Linked DNA regions of Homo sapiens. The protein of the gene in region 2 purifies or fractionates together with the protein of the main gene of each other region. This does not show direct contact. Each region holds a gene or a part of one and is shown on either strand. Other genes may lie near its edges. The genes, in order: EHMT1 and PRH1.

The links.
Region 1: the proteins of PRH1 (region 2) and EHMT1 purify together in Homo sapiens (affinity purification with mass spectrometry, with the first as the bait; one large-scale study listed by BioGRID). This does not show direct contact.

Annotation. Positions count from the first base shown.
Region 1 is NC_000009.12:137,814,505-137,818,004, reverse strand, and holds part of EHMT1 (histone-lysine N-methyltransferase EHMT1), read right to left. Parts: coding exon 3,497-3,500; intron 2,059-3,496; coding exon 1,943-2,058; intron 567-1,942; coding exon 480-566; intron 1-479. UniProt on the Homo sapiens protein: Histone methyltransferase that specifically mono- and dimethylates 'Lys-9' of histone H3 (H3K9me1 and H3K9me2, respectively) in euchromatin.
Region 2 is NC_000012.12:10,881,138-10,885,587, reverse strand, and holds the start of PRH1 (salivary acidic proline-rich phosphoprotein 1/2 isoform a preproprotein), read left to right. Parts: upstream 1-1,332; 5' UTR 1,333-1,370; coding exon 1,371-1,434; intron 1,435-2,491; coding exon 2,492-2,527; intron 2,528-2,889; coding exon 2,890-3,353; 3' UTR 3,354-3,371; intron 3,372-4,450. UniProt on the Homo sapiens protein: PRP's act as highly potent inhibitors of crystal growth of calcium phosphates. They provide a protective and reparative environment for dental enamel which is important for the integrity of the teeth.

The DNA.
Region 1 (3,500 bases), on a different chromosome or scaffold from region 2:
ACAAGCACAGCCCAGACTCCGCAGCCACAGGGAAAGAGCAGGGCACACCAGAAGAACATGCAGGGAACATGTTTAGAGAGGTGTGCCCAGGGTTGAACTGGGGTTTCAGCTGAGGGTCCGGAGGATGATGATAACGATACCGAAAGCTCTGCGTCTGCGGTCTGGTACCTGAGAACCCAGAATGGTCCTCCCCTAGAGATGACTGCCCATGCTGGACCACGCCTTCCTAACTGGACCACGCCTTCCTAACTGGACCACGCCTTCTTAAATGCACTCCTGGGCTGGTTACGGGCAGCAGCAAGAGGACTGAGGACAGCACGAGCTTGGTTCTCGGGGCCAGGGTCTCTGTGGCCCCCACCCCACGCTGCTGTACGCCAGGGATGTGCCTGCTCCCAGAGGGGCTTCCTGAAGTACAGACACAGATGGGCCTCCGTCCCAGAAATGACACCAGGCTTGGGGTGACCCAGGGACTCACTCACTCGCAGACAAAGGTGCCTGGTGGGATGTCCTGCAGGGACCGCACGCCCCAGCCCATGTCCCGCGTCCGGTAGAGCTGCAGCCTTGCCCTGAAAAATAGAGAGTAGTGGTGAACCCAGGCCACAGCCTCAGCCTGTTGCCACAATGGTCAGCAAAAGCCAGCTGGTGCCACGTCACTGAAATGAGGAAGAAAACTGGTTCTGTATCCGAAGCGTTCGATGCTGCAGGCACCTCACAGACACGGCATCTCGCACTCTCAGGGAGCCAAGAACCCGGGGATCAGCCAGGAGCACCCCAGCCCACAACCTCGGCAAGTCACTGGTCCTGGCCGTGGCTCGGTGTCCCCATCTGTAACATGGGGACAGAGCTGGGCCTGGGCCACTAGGCACTGTGAGGGGCAGAGGTGCTAATACTAGAGAAGCCTATAGCTGGACCAGGCTGTGGTGACACCTGCAGCCCAGCCTGCTCCCGACAAGGAGCCCACAGGCCCCTCAGGGCTGGGGGAGGGTGGCAGGGGAGGTGGCGGTCGAGGGTTTCTCAGGGCTGGGGGAAGGTGGTTGGGCAGGCCTGGGGGAGGGTGGCCGGGTAGATCTGGAGGAGGGCGGCTGGGCGGTCCTGGCATGTGGGCCTCTGAGGAGCCCTCAGAACCACGTGCCTCGCGTCTGCCCATCTGGCATGTGTCCCGTGTCTGCCTCGCGTCTGTCTGGCGTGGGTCCTCACCACCAGGCCTTTCTACCATACCAAGGACAGAGACTGCCTTTCACCATGAACCAAGTTTATCGAGGTCACAAAAAAGTCAATACTATAAAAATGAGTGTTCAGCTAAATTTAAGTGTGCATAACTTTCCCTTATGACTCAGAGGAGCTTTGACTTCTCCAATCTCGGGCACATTTGCGGAGGAAATGCTCAAGACCAGAATCCAGGGAAAGGAGACGCAGCTGCTGGGCGGTCAGGGGACCAAGCCCAGCTGGGGAAGGGCGCTGGGCAAGCCTTACTCCATGAGCGTCCTGAGCAACCCAGGAACAAGGAGTCCACGCAGCCTGAGAAGCGTTGGGACATCACCTCACTGTTAGGGAAGCCCAGAGAACAGAGAATATTTAGAAAATGACTGGAGTATTAAAATAGAACTACGACAGCCCTAACCTGTTGAAGAATGTTCGCATGAACTCGGTAACAAAGGTAATTCTTAGGCCAAGTCCGTTCCTCTGCTTTTAGCTGGACTGACCCAACAACCTGCTCCTTCTCTCATGCCGAAGTCTGTGCTGGGGGAAGCATGACTCGTGATTTATGGCACAAGTGACATTTCTAGAGGATAAAGGGCTCAGGTAACTTGTCGGCTCTATCTGCAAACACACATGTGCGTGCATCCAAACACGTTAAGTTCTTGTCTGTCGGGGTGACCTCCGTGCTAATACGTGCTAATACGAGCAGAATGTGGGGCTCCGGCAGGAAGCTGCCTCTCACCTGAGACCATTCTGTACGACGCGATTTCGGCAGTTCCTCCAGCAGGAGCACGCGTGGTTGCATTCGAAGATCAAGGGAGGCTCCGCCATGTTGAACTCTGGCAGGAGCCGGCCATCCTGTGGACAGATGAGCAGCAAGGGCCCAGCAGAGGTTACTCACTCTTTAATTGAACTGACATCAACCCATTTCTACTAAGTGCCCAGTGTGGCTTAAACGGACATAAAAACGATGGTTTCTGGCCAAACTTGAACACCCACCTAGGGAAAAACTCCATGTGTACGGTTTGGATGAGAAGCCTCCACCCAGATGCCCACACAGGTTGTGGAGACCCCCTGGAGCGCTCCCCTAGGCCCAGCCTGGGGCCAGCTTCTGTCCACCCAGGGCCTTCCCAGCCCCCAGCCTGGGCTTCTCCAGCCTCACCGAGGCTGCCAGCTCCTGGGTTGCTCTGCTTTCTTCAGCTGGTTGGGGCCTCCTGCACCCTCCTGCACTCCTGGCCTCCTTGCCTTGCAAATCCTCAACTGTGGAGGGACCCAGCCCTCTGCTCCCCTTTCTACCCCCCTGAAGCCAGGCCAGGTACAGCAGCACTGGGTGCAGATGCTCCCCCAGGGCTGTGTGAGCTGAGGCGCGGGGCCCAGGGCTGCCCAGGCACACTCTGGCTTGACGGCTTCAGGGGCTGCTCTGAACAATTAGGGCGCTCCTCAGAACATTCCTTCCTGCGCCCCCTCAGCAACACTGTCCACCTGAAAAGACACCACTCGGACATGAGCTTGGTGGCTTTCTGAGCGTACCATCTCCATAGCCCTCACTGGCACGAATCCTTTTCCCATTGGAGCCTCTAATTCAGATGGGTAAACACTTGACCCTCCATGTCCACTCTCCTCCAAAGTCTGCTTCCAGAGGGGACGCCTGTTGCCTCTCCCTGCTCGCGTCTCTTTACCCAGGCCATGCTGGCTTCCGCCCCCACCGTGACCTCTGAACTCGGGAGACCAGGAACTCTCCGCCTCTGCTTAGACATCCCTCCCCTGAATTGCACCCCTGCTAGCCAGGGCTACTCCCCACTCCCGTCTCCTCCTCAGCAGCCTCCAACCTGGGCTCCTCCGAGGACCAGCACCCAACAGAAACTTCCAATCCTGTGTCTCCTCAAGCCCAGCGCCCACACTGATGCTCCCTGTACCCAGCCCGGCAGCACCCTCCCTCTTCACACCCCTCACACTCAGCAAGCACAAGGCACAGCTTACCAGATACACACAACATAAGCAGCACCTCCTCCTGGGGCCAAGCCAGGCTGACGCTGCCCACCCCCGCCACCATCCAGGCAGCCACAAAGGATGCAGACCCCAGCCCCAGGGAATCCGCAGCCATGTCCTCGGCTCACGACCCTGACTCGGGTGCTGGTGCCCGCTGTGCCTCCCCTGCCTGTCACACCCAGCTCACCTCCAACTCCTTCCCGACGCTGCCACGACAGCGCTGGGGTCACAGACGCCTGCACTGTTTTTGCAGACCCGGACCAGCGGCACTTACCACCTGAGCCCACGCACACGAGGCCGCCCTCACCTTG
Region 2 (4,450 bases):
AAACTTAATTTTTGGAGCAATCAGCAGCTGAGGAGAGAGCTACCAAACCAGGACCCTGACAGGGCTTTTTGGAAACTTAATTTTTTATTGTCAAATTATACAGACAAAAATGAAAGTAAAGGTAGTGAGGAGTACCACACACCTTTACTTAGAAGGATAAATAAAGGACACCTTTGTAGGGAGAAAAAAAAAGATATAGGACGAAAAGTAAACATGGCAAGGTAGACTCAGAATACAAAATTTCAACAAATAAGTGCGAGAAAAAGAATGAGAAAGAATGAGTATTGGAATATTACAGATAAAAATCCTTGGTGAGAAAGAACACTCTGATGAAACAGGTGACATAATTACTGAGTAAAAGCAGAAGACCAATCAAGGCAATTGAGGCTTGGACAGGTATTACAAATTATCTTAGATGAATGTATAATTGTGGCCATTTAATTATCAGTGATGACAATTACAATATTTATTAGAAGAAATAAAGTAGAGGATGAATTCTATGGAATATTCTGGAGAAAGTGGAGGTCTTAGCTATATGACATCGTGTGGCTCACTTAGGGAACCATATATTCAGTTTGTTCAGGTCTAGAAATTCCTTGGTGGTTTCTGAGTTCAGTTTTGCTTTAATAAACCCTAAAGATATTTTTAAAATACAAATATTTTAGCTTGCCTGTGTTGTATAGCACCAAGGCTTGCCTGAGTGTAGTGAGATTCACAGAAGTTTGGACAATTCTTGTAGCCTGAGCAGGCTGCCAGCACCTTTCTCTCATATATGTGTGCCTGGGAGTGTGCTGTCCTCACACATCTCACAGATAAGCAAGACCATCTCTGTTACATGAAAAATTTAGCTAAATGTGAAAATATCCACGCACACACATCATGAGAGATGGAAAGAGGCTATCAAAACAGTCAGAGATATTGACCATCTTCACTGTTAGCTGTAGGATCAGTGTCCACCCCCCGACACACCCACACAAACTCACATACACAGAAATGAAAAGCACAGTGAAAAGCAGAATAGCAGTCTTTCCAAACAGATTGAAAACCAAAAGATGTCTAAAGTTCAATCCTGACACTGTGCCGACTGCTTGGACACAGTTCCGTCAAAACATTTGTCCAAGTCATAGTTGTGCCTTTTAGGAATTAGACACAAACAATATCCTACCCAACCCTTCCTGCTGAGCTAGAGTCCCAAAAGAAATGAGGGATACACTTGACCTGAAGTAAGCAAAGCAGAAGCCAGTCTCTGAGGCGAGGAGGCCCACCTGGTAGGGAGCTCAAATGCACCATTGTCCTGCTTGTCTTTATAAAGGGAGCTGACACGTTTCTCCCAGCACAAAGTTGGGAGTGACACCAGAGCCTCCTGCAAGATGCTTCTGATTCTGCTGTCAGTGGCCCTGCTGGCCTTCAGCTCAGCTCAGGATTTAAATGAAGGTAAGATGAATTGGGGGAAGATATTGTGACTCTGATTGGGGTTTACAGGCAAATGCTATAGAGGAGGAAAGTGGAGGGAAGAGAGGAGGATGAGAAAACAGATGGGACTGCAGAGTTCTCATGCTGAGGATCAGAAGATCTATTGTACCTCCATTCCTCATCAAGGCCTCATAGTTTATTTGTTGCACAAATAGAATCCAATAAAGAATTCGTACTAGGGGTGTGAGAGAGTGAGATTTGCATTATATAGAGACATGGGACTGCTGTGAAGGATGTGGAGAATGCAAGACAGATTCAGGGAAGTACAGCTGTGAAGATCCTGTACTGATCCCAGTAGACAGGGATGATGGTGGCCTTGCTGTACAGTGGATGAGCATTAATGAAGGAGATAAACACATGTCAGAGCTACTGCCGAGGCAGAGAATTGGGTAAACACTTGTCTCTGTCTACATAGAGTTAGAGAATAACCAGAGTGAAACATTGTCATTTTTCTGTCTCCTGAATGTAGTATTTCAATGTGCTGGGAATGGCATGCGTAAGATTATATCCAAGTGGCTATGTCTGGTGGCTCCTGTTGAGAAGGCTTGCAAACATAAACAACATATTTACAGATGAAAGAGGGCAGAAGAATCCCCAAATATGTCATTGAAATACTCAGAGCAGTTTAACTAAATAAGCGCTAAGGGTTTACAGGCAAATGCTATAGAGGAGGAAAGTGGAGGGAAGAGAGGAGGATGAGAAAACAGATGGGACTGCAGAATTTTCATGCCGAGGATCAGAAGACCTATTGTATCTTCATTCCTCATCAAGGCTTGGGGAATCAAAAGAGGACAAACAGGGGCCCTTCTATGTTGAGTTCCTGGTTGACGCTCAGTGTAGTAACAATACTGCTTTCCCTTACATCTTCTTCCACTTCCAGTAGCATCAGAGAGTGGCTGATGAGATCACAAAGGGGATGCACAGGGTGTGATCAGAGGTCCTTTATCCTCGTAGAACACTATGAGCCTTGAATGATTCAGGAAGTAACTTTTCCCATCATCCTGTACTTCTTTTCTAGATGTCAGCCAGGAAGATGTTCCCCTCGTAATATCAGGTAAATCCCAATAAATTCTCAGTAAACTCTGTCTCCATTTTTCCCTGAAAAATTGATGAGTTCTCCAGTGTCTTCTTATCACCATTTTCTTGTCAGGAATTGGCTAATACCAATGCCCCAAAGATACAAACAGTTTTCTCCCAACCTTGATTCTGGGGACCATGAGTAAAGAAATTCAATTTTTCATCACCCTTATGTGGATTAAGAGGAGTTCTAATTAGGAAGCCTTGGGAAGGGGGGAGGTTGGGAGTTGAGAGGCAGGTCAGGCAGAGAGGGGCCGGCCGTGTGGTGAAGACAGAGAGGTATGAAGACAGGAGGGTTTTCCAGCATGAGCTCAGCTCTTCTTGTTTCAACTCACACAGATGGAGGAGACTCTGAGCAGTTCCTAGATGAGGAGCGTCAGGGACCACCTTTGGGAGGACAGCAATCTCAACCCTCTGCTGGTGATGGGAACCAGGATGATGGCCCTCAGCAGGGACCACCCCAACAAGGAGGCCAGCAGCAACAAGGTCCACCACCTCCTCAGGGAAAGCCACAAGGACCACCCCAACAAGGAGGCCAGCAGCAACAAGGTCCACCACCTCCTCAGGGAAAGCCACAAGGACCACCCCAACAGGGAGGCCATCCCCCTCCTCCTCAAGGAAGGCCACAAGGACCACCCCAACAGGGAGGCCATCCCCGTCCTCCTCGAGGAAGGCCACAAGGACCACCCCAACAGGGAGGCCATCAGCAAGGTCCTCCCCCACCTCCTCCTGGAAAGCCCCAGGGACCACCTCCCCAAGGGGGCCGCCCACAAGGACCTCCACAGGGGCAGTCTCCTCAGTAATCTAGGATTCAATGACAGGTACGATTCCAGTTTATTATCCATCAAAGGCTCCAACTGCTACAGTTCTCCAACTTCATTGTGCCAATGAATCCTCTGAAAACCTGTTAATATTGCCCTGTCCTGGAACACATTTCTAAAAATTGTTATTCAGATATTCTTGTATAGAGTATCAAGACCCTGTGACCCTGTGTTTTACAGAAGCTCTTGAAGGCAATTCTGATTTTGAGAATCACTATCTTCAAATTACATGTCTTAAGTAGGGTTGACAATGAGGACATAGAACCATGTTCCCCCTTTGGCTCTCTCTATTTTCTTTCCTCAAACTCAGACTCCCATTTAAAGTTTTCACCTGAACATGCTTTGCTCAGTCCTGCCTCACATCAGGCTTTCAGGTCCAGTATTCCTGCTAAGTGGTCCTTGAACTTTCAGTTGTAAAATGGTATCTCATTTTTAGTATACTTACATTTAAAGTCATACATGCTTAAGCTAACAAAAACTAATCTCACTGAACCGAAATGTACAGAGCTAAATAGTAAGAGCCTAACTCATCTTTCCTCCCTTCTATCCTTCTCAAAACCCCCACCTTTTACTCTTTGGAATCTACTTTTTGAAATATATATTGCTACATAAATATATATAATGCTTTTATTACAAGCACTTATACCATACTGTATATTCAGATTTGTGTCTTACTCACTGGAAAAATTTATTGTTTAGAAAACTTTCTCATGAGTTCATTTAGATCTCTTCAGTGTTTATTGGTTAGTTTGTTTTTACAATTGTATACTATTCTATTGTTTGGTTGTTCCGTAATCTATTTAACCAATCCCTGTCACTGGATATTAAGGCTGGATTCACATTCTCACTATTATATGATATGTTGCAGTGCCCATCTTTGTAAAAATAGCCCTTACATAACCAACAGCAGCAAAGCATGAACACATAACAATAATTGTTTCTCTTTCTCATCTAAGCAACACTTTAAATCACATTATGTGCAATGGCTTAAAGAGTGAACAAAGAAAATATTACTAAGGAGAAGGGGGCTGTAGAAGGGATAGAGGGCAAGAGTAGGGGCTTGCATCTCCATCACTGCA